Homo sapiens: one gene and its partners. The protein of the gene in region 3 purifies or fractionates together with the protein of the main gene of each other region. This does not show direct contact. Each region holds a gene or a part of one and is shown on either strand. Other genes may lie near its edges.

The links. Proteins that work in one complex are often made in the same cells at the same time.
Region 1: the proteins of SRSF4 (region 3) and DDX27 purify together in Homo sapiens (affinity purification with mass spectrometry; one large-scale study listed by BioGRID and IntAct). This does not show direct contact.
Region 2: the proteins of SRSF4 (region 3) and CCNL2 purify together in Homo sapiens (pull-down; one study listed by IntAct). This does not show direct contact.
Region 4: the proteins of SRSF4 (region 3) and BMS1 purify together in Homo sapiens (affinity purification with mass spectrometry; one large-scale study listed by BioGRID and IntAct). This does not show direct contact.

The regions. Positions count from the first base shown.
Region 1 is NC_000020.11:49,236,416-49,239,915, reverse strand, and holds part of DDX27 (probable ATP-dependent RNA helicase DDX27), read right to left. Parts: coding exon 3,406-3,500; intron 968-3,405; coding exon 861-967; intron 681-860; coding exon 578-680; intron 1-577. UniProt on the Homo sapiens protein: Probable ATP-dependent RNA helicase. Component of the nucleolar ribosomal RNA (rRNA) processing machinery that regulates 3' end formation of ribosomal 47S rRNA.
Region 2 is NC_000001.11:1,396,536-1,400,621, forward strand, and holds the start of CCNL2 (cyclin-L2), read right to left. Parts: upstream 2,801-4,086; 5' UTR 2,772-2,800; coding exon 2,484-2,771; intron 2,137-2,483; coding exon 2,062-2,136; intron 1,884-2,061; coding exon of another isoform or gene 1,808-1,883; coding exon 1,698-1,807; intron 1-1,697. UniProt on the Homo sapiens protein: Involved in pre-mRNA splicing. May induce cell death, possibly by acting on the transcription and RNA processing of apoptosis-related factors.
Region 3 is NC_000001.11:29,154,401-29,157,900, reverse strand, and holds part of SRSF4 (serine/arginine-rich splicing factor 4), read left to right. Parts: intron 1-2,990; coding exon 2,991-3,205; intron 3,206-3,500. UniProt on the Homo sapiens protein: Plays a role in alternative splice site selection during pre-mRNA splicing. Represses the splicing of MAPT/Tau exon 10.
Region 4 is NC_000010.11:42,813,795-42,817,294, reverse strand, and holds part of BMS1 (ribosome biogenesis protein BMS1 homolog), read right to left. Parts: intron 697-3,500; coding exon 623-696; intron 1-622. UniProt on the Homo sapiens protein: GTPase required for the synthesis of 40S ribosomal subunits and for processing of pre-ribosomal RNA (pre-rRNA) at sites A0, A1, and A2.

The DNA of each region.
Region 1 (3,500 bases), on a different chromosome or scaffold from region 3:
ATGGCATGTATCAGAACTTCATGGCTGAATAATATTCCATTGTGTGTATATAAACACACACCCCAAATTTTGTTTATCCATTCACTTGTTGATGAACATAGTTTGTTTCCACCTTTTTGCTATTATGAACAGTAATTCAAAGAGCACTGGCATCTAAGTATCTGTTTGAGTCCCTGTTTACATCCTTTACAACAGTGGTCCCCAACCCCAGGCTGCATACCGGTTCCAGTCCATGGCGTATTAGGAACCAGGCTGCACAGCAGGACGTGAGCATTGGGCAACCAAGCATTGCCACCTGTGCTTGGCCTCCTGTCAGATCAGCAGCAGCATTAGATTCTCATAAGAGCACTAACCCTATTGTGAAGTGCGCATGCGAGGGATCTAGGGTGTGCACTCCTTATGAGAATCTAATGCAACCCCCACACCCCAAATGTGGAAACATTGTCTTCCACGATACTGGTCCTTGGTGCCGAAAGGTTGGGGACCGCTGCTTTACAGTATAGAACTAGGAAATGGAACTGCTGAGTCCTGTGGGGTAATTCTGTATTTAGATTTCTGCGGAACCTCCCTGACTTACTTTTCTCCTTCTTCCTCTCTTCTTTGGTCTGGAACCAGCTCCTCTCGGGCTCTTGGACCACTGCCTCCTTCCCCTTCTCCAGGAGCCGCTTTGCTGTATTGATCTGTAGAGATAACAAAAGGATGCCTGCCGTGAAACCCGTATCTACTAACACAGGAAGCCACGGGCTGCAAATGCCTGGGGCTCTGATGGGAGAAACATTTCAGAAGGGCAGCACCAGCAGGGATGCAGCAGCTTGCTTACTGAGCAGCCTTGTGAACAAGATCCCGCCTCGCAGCCTCACCTGGGCTTCTGACTGCTGCATCTCTTTTTCCTCCGCCTCTAGCTGCAGAACTGCATACACATCTTTCTCCATTTTCTCAATCTTGTCCCGGAATTTGAGGATGACATCTCAATGGGAGAAAATAAAAAGGATTTACAAATAAGGGTAGGCCAGGCATGGTGGCTCACACCTGTAACCCGGCACTCTGGGAGATTGAGGTGGGAGGATTGCTTGAGCCCAGGAATTTGAGGCCAGCCTGGGCAACGTGGCCAGACTCTGTCTCTACAAAAAAAAAAAAAAAAAAAAAAAAAGCCAGGCACAGTGGCTCATGCCTGTAATCCCACGCTTTGGGAGGCCAAGGCAGGTGGATCACCTGAGGTCAGGAGTTTGAGACCAGCTTGGCCAATGCTGTGAAACCCCGTCTCTATTAAAAATACAAAAATCAGCTGGGTGTGGGGGCACACGCCTGTAATCCCAGCTACTACTCAGAAGGCTGAGGCAGGAGAACTGCTTGAACCCACGAGGCGGAGGCTGCAGTAAGCCAAGATGACACCACTACACTCCAGCCTGGGCAAAAGAGCGAGACTCCATCTAAAAAAAAAAAAAAAATTAGCCATCATGGTGGCACACACCTGTAGTCCCACCTACTCAGGAGGCTGAGGAGAAGAACTGCTTGAACCCAGGAGTTCGAGGCAACAGTAAGCTATGATCGCACCCCTGTACCCCAGCCTGGGCAACAAAGCAAGACCTTATCTTAAACAAAATAAGGCAGTGGCTCAAGCCTGTAATCCCAGCACTTTGGGAGGCCAAGGCGGGTGGATCACGAGGTCAAGAGATCGAGACCATCCTGGACAACATGGTGAAACCCCACCTGTACTAAAAATATAAAAATTAGCTGGGCGTGGTGGCATGCACCTGTAGTCCCAGCTACTTGGGAGGCTGAGGCAGGAGGATCACTTGAACCCGGGACGCAGAGGTTGCAATGGGCCGAGATCGCACCACTGCACTCCAGCCTGGCAACAGAGCAAGACTCCATCTCAAAAATAAATTAAATAAAATAAAATAAGGGTGACTACTAATACTGTGTAACTGATGAAAATAATTTAGCTGTGCATTTACTGACATAGGAAATGGTGTCTGTAATGTGTGCCTTCTCTGCTTCATATCCCCCAGACTCAGAGTGGCCCCTGCCTACCGCTCTGATCTTCTGTGTGTCCCTGCTCACCACGCCTGAGCCTCCTGACCTTTCTCTTGTTCTCACACACTAAGCTCGTTCCTACCTCACAGCCTCCACCCTTGTTCTCTCAGCTCAGCACTTTGCCCTCAGACCTCTCATGGCTGCCTCATTCCGATCACCCAGGACTCAGCTCCAATGCCAGCTGTGCAGAGGCCTTTCCTTAACAGCTTAATGAGGCAGTCTCCTCCTGCTGTTCTCAATCACATCTACTGTTAGCTTATTTATTGTCTCTTTCTCCCAGAACCACAGCTCTGCTTTGTTCCCTGCTGTATCCCCAGCACCTAGAACAGAATCAATAGCACTAGGCCCACAGCAGGACTCAATAACTAGTCGCTGATTAAATGAAGACAATGAAAATGAAAAAAATAAAAGGGACATTTAAGAAAGGAAAAATGGTTTGAAAAGACATACACCTAAATGCTACCAGTGGTGAGCTCTTTGACACAGAATTACATTTTTTTTTATTTACTAATTTCCAACAATAAATACGTACTTTTCATTTCATTTTTTAGAGACAGGGTCTTGCACTTTTGCCCAGGCTGCAGTGCAGTGGCACAATCATAGCTCACTGCAGCCTCAACCTCCTGGATTTAAGAGATCTCCTGCCTCAGCCTTCTGAATAGCTGGGACTACAGGCACACACCACCATGCCCAGCTAATTTTTTTTTTTTAGAGACAGGCAGCTCACTATATTGCTCAGGTTGGTCTTGAACTCCTGGCCTCTAGCAATCCTCCTGCCTTGGCCTCCCAAAGTGCTGGGTTATAGGCAAGAGCTACCATGCTCAGGCTAAATATGTATTATTTTTATAACTTTAAAAATTTTTAAGGCTGGGCATGGTGGCTCATTACTGTTAATCCCGGCACTTTGGGAGGCAGAAGGTGGGTGGATTGCTTGAGCCTAGGAATTCAAGAACAAAACAAAACAAAAAAAGACTTTAAAGAGGATGTGCTTTATAAGACCCCCACAGATCAGAGGAACAAAATCAATGAAAGGACCCAAAAAGAATGAGTACTGATCTCTCTCTTCCCCACCACCAACAGTAAGGGAAAGAGGAGTTTAGTGAGAATTTTGCCCCAAGCAACCTTCTCTTCTCAATTTCCACCTAAATGGGGCACTGTGTTTACAATTCTGTCATAATTCCCTTCTACACACAGGAGGCAAGCTCAGAGAGGTGAGGTGAAACCTGCACATGGTCACTCGGCAAGGAAGCAGCAGGGCTGGAATTCAAATCTGGCTCTGAACTGCAAAGTACCTGCTCTCAGCCATTACACTCTGTCCTTGCCCCGCCCACCGAGCCATTCTGCACTGCCACAGGGGTGCCTGCTCACCTTGGGGAAGTATCCTGGCCTTCACAGGGGCCTTGGCAGCTTTTACAATCTCCTTCAGCATCTTCCGCTCATCTTCTCCCACCAGAGAGACTGAG
Region 2 (4,086 bases), about 28 Mb from region 3:
GACTATAGGCGTGAGCCACTGCGCTCGGCAAGGCTGTTTTTTTTTTTTTTTTTTTTTTTTTTGAGACAGAGTTTCACTTTTGTTGCCCAGGCTGGAGTGCAATGGCACAATCTCAGCTCACTGCACCTCTAACTCCCCGGTTCCAGCGATTCTCCTGCCTCACCCTCCCGAATAGCTGGGATTACAGGCACCCGCAACCACACCCGGCTAATTTTTTTTTTATTTTTTTTTGAGACGGAGTCTTGCTCTGTCGCCCAGGCTGGAGTGCAGTGGCCCGATCTCAGCTCACTGCAAGCTCCACCTCCCGGGTTCACGCCATTCTCCTGCCTCAGCCTCCCAAGTAGCTGGGACCACAGGCACCCGCCACCACGCCTGGCTAACTTTTTTGTATTTTTAGTAGACGGGGTTTCACCGTGTTAGCCAGGATGGTCTCGATCTCCTGACCTCGTGATCCACCCGCCTCGGCCTCCCAAAGTGCTGGGATTACAGGCGTGAGCCACTGCACCTGGCCAATTTTTGTGTTCTTAATAGGGACAGGGTTTCACCATATTGGTTAGGCTGGTCTCGAACTCCTGACCTTAGGTGATCCACCTGCCTAGGCCTCCCAACGTGCTGGGATTACAGGCCAGCCCGGCCAGAGGCTGTGTTTTCTAAAGGACTTCAATTAACTTCAGGTGCATAAACCCTGGGCTAAGGTCAGAGGCAGCGGTTCTCTGCTGGAGAAATTTTACTATTCCAGGGCCATGAAGCAACATCAACAGACTTTCGTTTTTTTTGGAAACAGGGCCTCACCCTGTTGTCCAGGCTGGAGTGCAGTGGTGACATCACAGCTCACTGCAGCCTCAATCTCCTGGCCTCAAGCAAACCTCCTTTTTCAGTCTCCCAAGTGCTGAGATGACAGGTGTGAGCTCCCACATCTGGTATGAGAGAATTTCTGGCTGTCACATCTAAGGTGGGGTACTCCTGTCATCCAGTGAGTCGAGACCAGGGATGTTGCTGAATCCTGCAGCACACAGGAGAATCCCCTACAACTAAAGATTACCCAGCCAGATGCGGTGGCTGAAATCTGTAATCCCAGTGCTTTGGGAGGCTAAGGCCAGCAAATCCTTGGAGCCCAGGAATTTGAGACCAGCCTGGGCAACACAGCATGACCCCATCTTTACCAAATAAAAAATAAAAATTAGCTGGCATGGTTGGCGTGCTCCTATAGTCCCAGCTACTCAGGAGGCTGAGGCAGGAGAAACTCTTGAGCCTAGGAGGTTGAGGCTGTAGTGAGCCATGATCATACCACCGCACTCTGCCCTGGACAACAGGAAACCTGTCTCAGGAGGAAAAAAAAGATTATCCAGCCTGAATGTCAATAGTGCTGAGATTAAGATTCCCTGCTCCAGAGCACTCAGAAACTTGTGGGACAGAAGCAGCAGCAGGGCCGTGCACTGACATGGGTAAAGCAGGAAGCCAGCCCCAGCGCGACCCGCCACAGCGCACTGTCCTCACTGGAGCCCCTGCCCTTACTAAACCGCATCTACTGATGCCTCTGAGCAGGCTCTGTTGGTGGAGCTTGAGACTGCGCTCATGAATATCCCACAGGTTTAGAGCCTCAGGCCTGTATTGTGTTATACAAGCCTTACTGTAACTTAATCAGAAATAAAGAAAATAGGCATCTATGATAGACTAGACAGCTCTGACTGACTCACTTTTTGTCTCTCAGCTGTCGAAGGCGGTGAAACACATTGATGACGTCCCGTATGCGTCTTGGGGCCTCTTCTATCTTGGAAGCCAGGTGGACACAGGCCATTGACACATGCTGAAGCGGAAGCATTGCAACACGCCCATGTTTGTCCCCAGCCACGGCGTCCTGACGGCCGCCAAAGGCTTGAGGGCTATTCAGACCAAAAGGGAGGTGCACCCAGGGGAAAAAAAAAGTCAAGAAACAGAACCCTCCGGCACAGAGCTCAGACTGGGGGGCAAGTACTCACTCCCTTAGTAACCGGGCAAAGTAACAAACCGTTTTACCCTCAACATACTTCGCTGGGAATGAAGTGCAGGAGGAAGCCTTACCTCCATGGAGTGCTTCACGAAGGACTTGGTATAAAAGAACCGCTGGAACAACACCTGCCCGGTAGCCATGGCCACCTAGAGTAGAAGAAAGTTTCCGTATTTTCAAACGCACCATTCAAAGCCTTCGCGGCCGAAAGTCATCGAGTAACGTGGGACTCCCCACGCAGAACCAAACACTGAAACGCTTCCCACGTCCACAAAGGCTCTTCGCGTCCCGCCGTCTCGGGATCCAGCGCACTGGCGGGCGGGGAGGCCCCGGGTCAGGGGCATGGGCTGGCTAGGGAATGGCGCCGAGGCTGGGGTCGGGGCAGGGGCTGGGGTCGGGGTCTAGGCGGGGGCGGTGCGGGCCCGACTCGCCGCCAACAAAGGCGGCTGCCGCCCCAGCGGTTACCTGGGCCGGAGGCTCGCGGCCGCGCCCTCACCTGCGGCAGGCGGAGCAGGATACCGGCCGCCTGGATGAGCTCGCAGCCCACCACGCGGAGGTCGGTCTCTGTGTCGGTGTCGAGGCCGCTCGACATGGACGGCGTGAAACGGAGCTTGTCGTCAGGCAGGAGGCAGTTCTCCAAGGTGATGAGCACCCCGGAGTACAGCCTGTCCCCGATCAGCACCCCCTGCGACCCTGAGGGTGCGCCCCCAGATCCCGGGGCGCCGGCCGCTGCCGCGGGAGCTGCCGACCCTGCAGCACCAGCCGCCGCCGCCGCCGCCGCCATTTTGTGCCGCCGACTCCCCTTCGGCTTCTTCCCTCAGGGCGGCTCCTCGCGAAGCTCCACGGCCGCCACCGCCCCGCCCCGTCGCGTGCCATTGGTTCGGCCCGCGACCAGCGCGACGCCGCCTAGCCGCAATTGGCTACATAACCTGCCCGTCAGCAACGCGCCTAACGCCGACGCCGGAACCTGGCGCGGGTGGGGCGGGCTCGTTACCCAGGGGACTCCGCGGTGCCGGCCGACCCGGAAGCATGTCTGTCCCTAGCGGAGGCGCGGGTGCCGTGCTGAGAGCGCCTGCCTGTGCGCCCCGAGCGGGGCTGGGACTCTTCCAAGATGCCCACGTTCGCACAGAGACCCCGGATCGCGGAAGCTCGCGTCTCGAAAGGCCTGTGGGTCAAGGGGGGCCATCTCGGTGGGATCTGGGGCGGGACGACCCCCACTGCTGAACCCTGGGCGCGGGGCAGGGTCAGAGGCTCCGCTCGGCCTCCCCCTGGATGAGACGCGCATGCCCGGTGTCCCCCGGCCGCCGTCGGCGTCGTGTCTTCAGTCCTTATCGACTCCAGACTTTGGGGATGCGTATTAACGCCAGACTCCTGCAAAGTCTTGCCTTCAACACTCAGCCCCTGGGGAGAGACGGGTGGAGGGATGACTGGAAACGTGGCCTCGACGTCCCTACAGAGCCCCTCCAGCGTGGGGAGGCCTAAGTACCTCAAGGTTCAGGCCCACGGAAGGAGTCGGGGGAGCGAGGCCCGGTGATCTACGTGTGAAGGAGCTTGGACAGGACCTCACAAACGCCAGGGAGACGGCGAGGGGGTTCGTGCGTTTGTAACGTCTTGACATCGCTGATCCTCCCGCAGGCGGTCTCACGCCCTGCCCGTCCTGGGTTCACGGTTTTTCATCACCTGCGGCTGTCCTGCGATCGACCACAGCTGTGCAGGAGGGGCAGGAGGTATCTGTTGCTGCAGTTACCGGAACCTTTGCCAGGACTAGTACAGGACCACGGGTGAGGATGGTGGGGAAGCCTGCGTGGGGCAGGGAACGGTGAGGCAGGAAGAGGGAAGGGCAGCAGAGGCCTGAGTGGTTGCAGGTTCACACACTGAGCTGCCAGTAACTGCCCAGCTCAGACGGGCTCAAATTCAGAAGCCACCATTGCTCCTCACCCCCACCCCCAGGTCAGCTGTCCACTAGCTCTGCCATGACTTGATACTGCAGCTCAAACAGTGCCAACCAAAACCCACTCTCCTCACCGCCTGTTATGGGTAACACGGTATGGTTACAGCTTTACTCATGTCCTCTTTCCCCAGGCTGGTAGCTCAGGGAT
Region 3 (3,500 bases):
ACTGCACCCGGCCCCACTTATTGACAACAGTGTTTTTAATCTCAATAGGAAGAAAAACTTACTGAGCAGTATCATAATCTGAATGGTCTTAGGAGGATGCATGAAACAGGTTTTGTTTTCTGTCTCCCTTCTCGCTTTTTTTGGCCATATTTAAACAAGTCATCTCTAGCCAAATGAGTGAAGTGTATTTAGGTTCAGGAAAGAATAGTTAGGAATCCTTTACATTTGTATAGTTTAATTTAAAGCACTTTTTTGTTTTTCTTTTTAAAATTTAATCCCAGCAACCTTCAAGTAACATGCAGAAGAGCTGGGACCAGGACTCCTGACTCCCAGTCTGCTGTTTTTTCAGGTGCATCATGCTTATCGTCAGCACCGTAGCAGACCTTTACTGAATGTCTGCCAGCAAGATTCTGCTTGCTGAAGGAATGACTCCAGTATTCTGAGAGTTAGGGATTGAACATCATGGGTAGAAACTGGAAAGCTACTCTCTTCATCAGTAGAATGCTAACTCGTCATGTAGTGCCACTAAATGTAATATTAAATTAACTTCTTAGAAAACCTCTTAATTTTTTTGTTAGAACAGAGCTTAGTTACTGTTGGGGGAAAGGCTTATGGGGTGCCTGTATAAACTGGCCATAAAAATATGGGACAATAAATTGTGCAAAGCCACAAGAGGCCTCTTGTGGGAGGAGGAAAGCCTTATCACCATTATGTTCCCATGCTCTCAGCAAGACTTGCTCTCTTATCCATAAACACTGTGTTCAAGGAGAAAGACACTCCTTTGAAGCACTGGAATGTGGCCAGACATGCAGGCTCCTAGTTAAGCTCGCTCCCACCAGCTACTCTCCGATAAGTTAAAGATATGCTGTCTAAGCACAAAGGAGATTCATTTAAACTGCCACTGCTGTAGATTACGTGTATGACGCACTGCCTTCCTTTCAGCACTGCCTGCCTTTCACCGTTTCGTCCTGAATGTCTGCTTCTTAGATCTAAGTGATTGTACTCAGTAAATAGTGTGGAGACCAGAACTCTGAGCCTTTTGCAGCCTCCATTTTGCAATTGGCCCCCTGGCCCCCACTCTTTATGCACTCTTAACCTCTCTCTTCTCATTCCTTCGTCGCCACCAGACTTTGGGTACCCTACGGGTGGTGTTGAGGCTGGTCCCCAACAGTTACCACCCTTAGTTGGTTCTACATGTCTGTACCTTCAGGCAGTTCCACTCTCAGGAAACGAGAGTAATAGATAATTGAGCAGATTTCCTAGCTCTCAAGGTGGCCAACCTGAATAGAATCCTGGTTCTGCCACTAAGGTCACTTACATGACCCTTAGCAAGTTACTTACATCTTATGCCTCATATTCCTCAACTATAAAATGGGGTTAATACTAATTTCTACTCAAGGTTATTGAAAGAATTTAGTGAATTTTATATATAAAAAGCCTAGAACAGTTTCTGGCACAATGTATGTTAGCTATTTATCAAGGAAATGCAAAAATAAAACAAATTAGGGGATATTAGTAGTTTAAAAAATAAATTTTTTTTTTTTTTTGAGACGAAGGTCTTGCTCTGTCGCCTGGGCTAGAATGCAGTGGCACAATCTCGCTCACTGCAACTTCCACCTCCTGGGTTCAAGCGATTTTCATGCCTCAGCCTCCCAGGTAGCTGGGGTTACAAGCGCCTGCCACCACGTCTGGTTGATTTTTGTATTTTTAGTAGAGACAAGGTTTCACAAAGTTGCCAGGCTGGTCACAAACTCCTGACCTCAGGTGATCTCCTGGCCTTGGCCTCCCAAGGTGTTGGGATTACAGGTGTGAGCCACTGCACCTGGCCAAAAATAAATTTCTTTTTGTTCTGTTTTGTTTTGTTTTTTGAGATGGAGTCCCGCTCTGTCAGCAGGCTGGAGTGCAGTGACACTATCTCGGCTCACTGCAACCTCCTAATCATATCTCCTCTTATTTATATAATGCTTTAGCATTTGTCTAGGACATTAGTTGTATTCTCTCATTGAACCATAGGAAGTCCTCAAAGAGAATGAGGAAAGAGGCCTGTGGTATTGAAGGGACATGATGGTTATAAACAAATAATTTGTCACTATAAGATTTAGAAAATGGGCTGGGCACAGTGACCCATGCCTATAATCCTAGCACTTTGGGAGGCTGAGGCAGGTGGATTGCCTGAGCTCAGGAGTTTGAGACCAGCCTAGGCAATATGGCAAAACCCCATCTCTAATGAAAACACAAAAAATCAGCTGGGTATGGTGGCGCGGACCTGCAGTTCCAGCTGTTGGGGAGGCTGAGGCACAGAATCACTTGAACCTGGGAGGCAGAGGTTGCAGTGAGCCGAGGTCACATCACTGCACTCCAGCTGCCTGAGCGACAAAGCAAGACTCTGTTTTTTGTTTGTTTTTAAATTTAGAAGATGATAGCTAACTGAAAACTTCTATATTCACACAAAACTTTATTTTTTTGTTTTGAGGTAGGGTCTTGCTCTGTACCCCAGGCTGGAGTGCAGTGGCATGATCACGGCTCACTGCAGCCTCAACCTCCTTGGGCTCAGATGATCCTCCCACCTCATCCTACTGGGTAGCTGGGACCACAGGCGTGTGCCACTACACCTGACTAATTTTTTCAATTTTTGTAGAGATAGGGTCTTCTGTGTTGTCAAGGCTGGTCTTGAATTCCTGGGATCAAGCAATCCTCCCGCCTCAGCTTGTCAAAGTGCTGGGATTACAGGCATGAGCCACCACACTTGGCCCCAAAACTTTATTTAAAGGAACAATTTAATGTGTATTTATTGTCTCTCCCACCCACCTAATATGGCTGGTGCTTTAAAGAACCTCAGTACATGATTGATGGGTAGATGAAAATATTTAAGAGTAAACTTTATTCTGCGGAATGCTGGCATTTCTTAAAGGAAAAATTCACTCAGATGATTGCATTAGATATTTTAGCAAAACATATCCTAATGTAGTCACACTTTTTTTTTTCTTCAGGATTATATGCGTCAGGCAGGAGAAGTGACTTATGCAGATGCTCACAAGGGACGCAAAAATGAAGGGGTGATTGAATTTGTATCTTATTCTGATATGAAAAGAGCTTTGGAAAAGTTGGATGGAACTGAAGTCAATGGGAGAAAAATCAGATTAGTTGAAGACAAGCCAGGTTCCAGACGACGCCGGTCCTACTCCAGAAGCCGGAGTCATTCAAGGTACTGTTGATGTCTTTTGTGTGTTGGAGCTCATCATAAATTCATTAGTGAGCACATAGATAATTTATTTACATTTTCCTGTTGAGTTCTTAATAACATGATTCCATCTGGTTCAATAACTTAGAATTTTGAACTGAACATTTATTTGTAAAACTCTTGAACTCTTAGGTCATGAGTACAAATAGAAGTCCCTTCTCTTAGAAATCAGAGGCCTTGCTCACGCCTGTAATCCCAGCACTTTGGGAGGCCAAGGTGGGCGCATCACAAGGTCAGGAGTTCAAGACCAGCCTGACCA
Region 4 (3,500 bases), on a different chromosome or scaffold from region 3:
TTTGTGTATGTTTATGAAGGTCTTTTCTTTAAACATTAGCTTTTTTAAAGTTCTATTTAAACAAGAATCTTAGCAAAAATCTGTTATCATTATCAATAAAACAAAAGAAAACACAACACAACCTTTGTCTCTGAATAACATGGTACTGCTACAGGAAATGGTTACATCTGCATTACAATTAGCTGCTAATCCTTAAGCTGGCTGGGAACACAAACTAGAATAAAAATAACAGACGTGTCCCTCACCCAGATGCTCCCAGACCCTGTTCTAAAGAAATACTAGGGAGAACAGGGACTTCATTCTTTTAAATGACACTTAAATTTAAAAAAAGGAGAATGATGCCAATGGTTGAATGTAAGTCCAAGAAGCTAAGACTTCCGTGAGTGAAAAATCACAGTGGACTTGGCAAATGACTATGGCAAGAAACGGTAGTAACTGTCATCCAAAACTTAACAAGTAAACAAGAAAGCTTCTCTTTGGTCCCCACATCCCCACCCTTTAGGAAGGAATCTATCTATCCAGTCTGCAATCTTCACACATCACAAGTAAGATTTGCATTTCTCAATGTGGGCCTCTCTCAGAACACAATGACCAAGAACAGCCAGCTACGACAAAGTCATACCTGAGTATTGGGGCCTGATTTTCCCTTGTGCACGTCCCCTGTTTCCAAGTCTTCAAAGTCACCGTAGAGCTCCTCTGGGAAAAGAACACCCAAAGGCTGCTCTGTGAGCCAGGTATGCATGTGCTGCTGGCCCCACCTACCACAGGCCCACAGTGTGCTCTGCGTTCCAAGCCTCATTCTCACTGTTCCTGTCACTACACACACAGGCAAAACTTTGCACTAGGGAATGCTTTGTAAAACAGTTAGTATTTCATCATCTGTTTAGGTAAACTAAATGGACCCAATCCACATTTCCGCACTTCACATCAAAATCCCAATCTCAATTTTTCCAGTATACACAATGGACACTCTTTTGTTTTTGTTTTTTATTTTTGGAGACAGAGTCTCACTCTGTCACCCAAGCTGGAGTGCAGTGGCATGATCTCAGCTCACTGCAACCTCCGCCTCCCGGGTTCAAGCAATTCTACTGCCTCAGTCTCCCGAGTAGCTGGGATTATAGGCACCCGCCACCAAGCCTGGCTAATTTTTGTATTTTTAGTAAAGATGGGATTTCACCAATTGGCCAGGCTGGTCTCGAACTCCTGACCTCGTGATCTGCCCTCCTCAGCCTCCCAAAGTGCTGGGATTACAGCCATGAGCCACTGCACCTGGCCAATGGACACTCTTTATGAAAGACACAGAGGTCTATGTGTGTCCCCCAAACGAATAGTTCAAGGAATGAATAGAAAAGCTCCACGCTGATACCAGCACATGTGAAAAGGAGTCTCAATGTAAGTTCAACACAACACAATCGTGTAACACACCTAGGGGAAATTTTAGGTTATATAAAACATAGCATTTAGATTAAGAGTAGAGCCCCAAACCACACCAAACCCATGGGAAGAGCTTATTCACTCATTCATTCCTTCATTTGTTTTTGGAGCTCTGGGCTCAATTATAGTTCCCACTCTTAAAAGAAACAGACAAGTAAGGCTGGGTGCAGTGGCTCACGCCTGTAAACCCAGCACTTTGGGGGCCCGGGAGGCAGACGTTGCAGTGAGCCATAATTGCATCACTGAACTCCAGCCTGGGTGACAGAGTGAGACCCTGTCTCAAAAAAAGGAAAATAAAAGAAATAGGCAAGTTAAAACTCATTTGGGAGAGCAATGTTTAGAAGGCTATTAAAACATTTTCACATAAGGGCCAAAGAACCAGGTAGAAGTTATAATAGATAGGAAGCTCCTATTTGTAATAAAAGCAAAAAAGGATAAAATAGGAATAAACCTAACAAGAAATGCACCAGAACTTTATTTTTTTAAAAAAGAAGAAAAGCTTTAATATGCTACCAAAGGACAAAAGGAATAGCATCACCACCAACACTCATCGGTGCTCTCCACACCAGGCACTGTGTTAAGTACTTTCCTTGCCTTAACCACATTCTTCAACCCAAGGAAGTAGGTGTTGTAAATATTATCTACTGAATAATGATATGTCCTCATTTGAAAAGAAAGACTCAACATCAAAAATACGCCAATTCTCCCTTTAGCACAGTTACAACCTGAAACCACCATTAAGGATTTCTGGTCTAGAGAAGATAACACATTATACCCTCCTAAGAAATAATAGACAGGAGATGATCAAAGGAGAATTCTGAAAGGTGGAAAGAAAAAGGCTGCTGAGGGACTCTAGGACTAGGGAATGCATAGTGGCCAGGTGTCTCCCTGGACCTCATCCAATAGGAAGTTGACCAGGCCCAGAGTTTCCCAACTCCCAACGTAGCAATAGAAGGCAACCCAGGCAGACTCAGTCCCCCCAGATCAAAGGAAATCTTCCCCATAACAAGAAAACCAGCTCCACACACCAAGACAACCACCACTCCCCACCCACCTAGCTGCAGCAGGTGGCCCAGCCTGGGGCAGCTCCCCTGTTCCCTCAGGTGGGCAACAGCAGGGACTGGTGGGAGAATCCCAGTGATACATATAAGCCAAACAGACCAAAATAACACCATGAAGGCTCTGAAATTAAATTGCCATTGGAATCACAGCCCACAAAGTAGACCAGGACCTACAGACTAAACCCAAATAGGAGGACTGCCTGCAAAAATAAAAAAATTACATAGGCAGATGTTGGAACCATCTGACTCATCACTTATAACAGTCAGCATAAATATGCTTCAACAAGCAACTACAAATCCTATGGCAACAAACAAAGAACTGAAAACGTCAGCAAAGAAACTGAAGAAGAATCAAATGGAAATTACAGAAATATAAAATACAGTAACAGAAATTAAAAAAAAATCTATCTAGATGGGCTCTATTGAGTAAAAGTGGAGACGACAGAGGAGAGAATCAGAGAAGCTGAAACCTGTATCAACAGAATTCACCCAGTCTAAACAATAGAGAGAAAATAACCTGAAAACAAATGAACAGAGCTGCACGGACCTGTGGGACAATAACAAAAGACCCCGCATTTATGTTATCTGAGTCCCACAGGAGACCAGAGCTGCAAAAGCATGCAAATAACTAATTCCTGACGCTTCCCACATTTAGTGAAAGATATAAACTTACAGATTCAAGAAGCTGAGCAAACCTCAAAGTATAACAAAAGAAAGCAACACTGATTAAACTTTCAAAACTAAAAACAAAGACCAAAAATGGCAGAATGCCTGTAGGGACATGCCAACTCAAATGCCATGGAGGCCAGAAGGAAGTGGCACAACATTTTCAAGTGCTTAAAAAAAACCAACCAAAGAAACAAACAAAAAAACCAAACCAACAAACAAAAAAACTGTTGGTTGCAAATTCTATATCCCATGAAACTACCCTTCAGAAATGAAGAGAGAAATAAAGACATTATCAGAGGAAGAGAATATAGGAATTTGTCTCTGGTAAATTTAGAA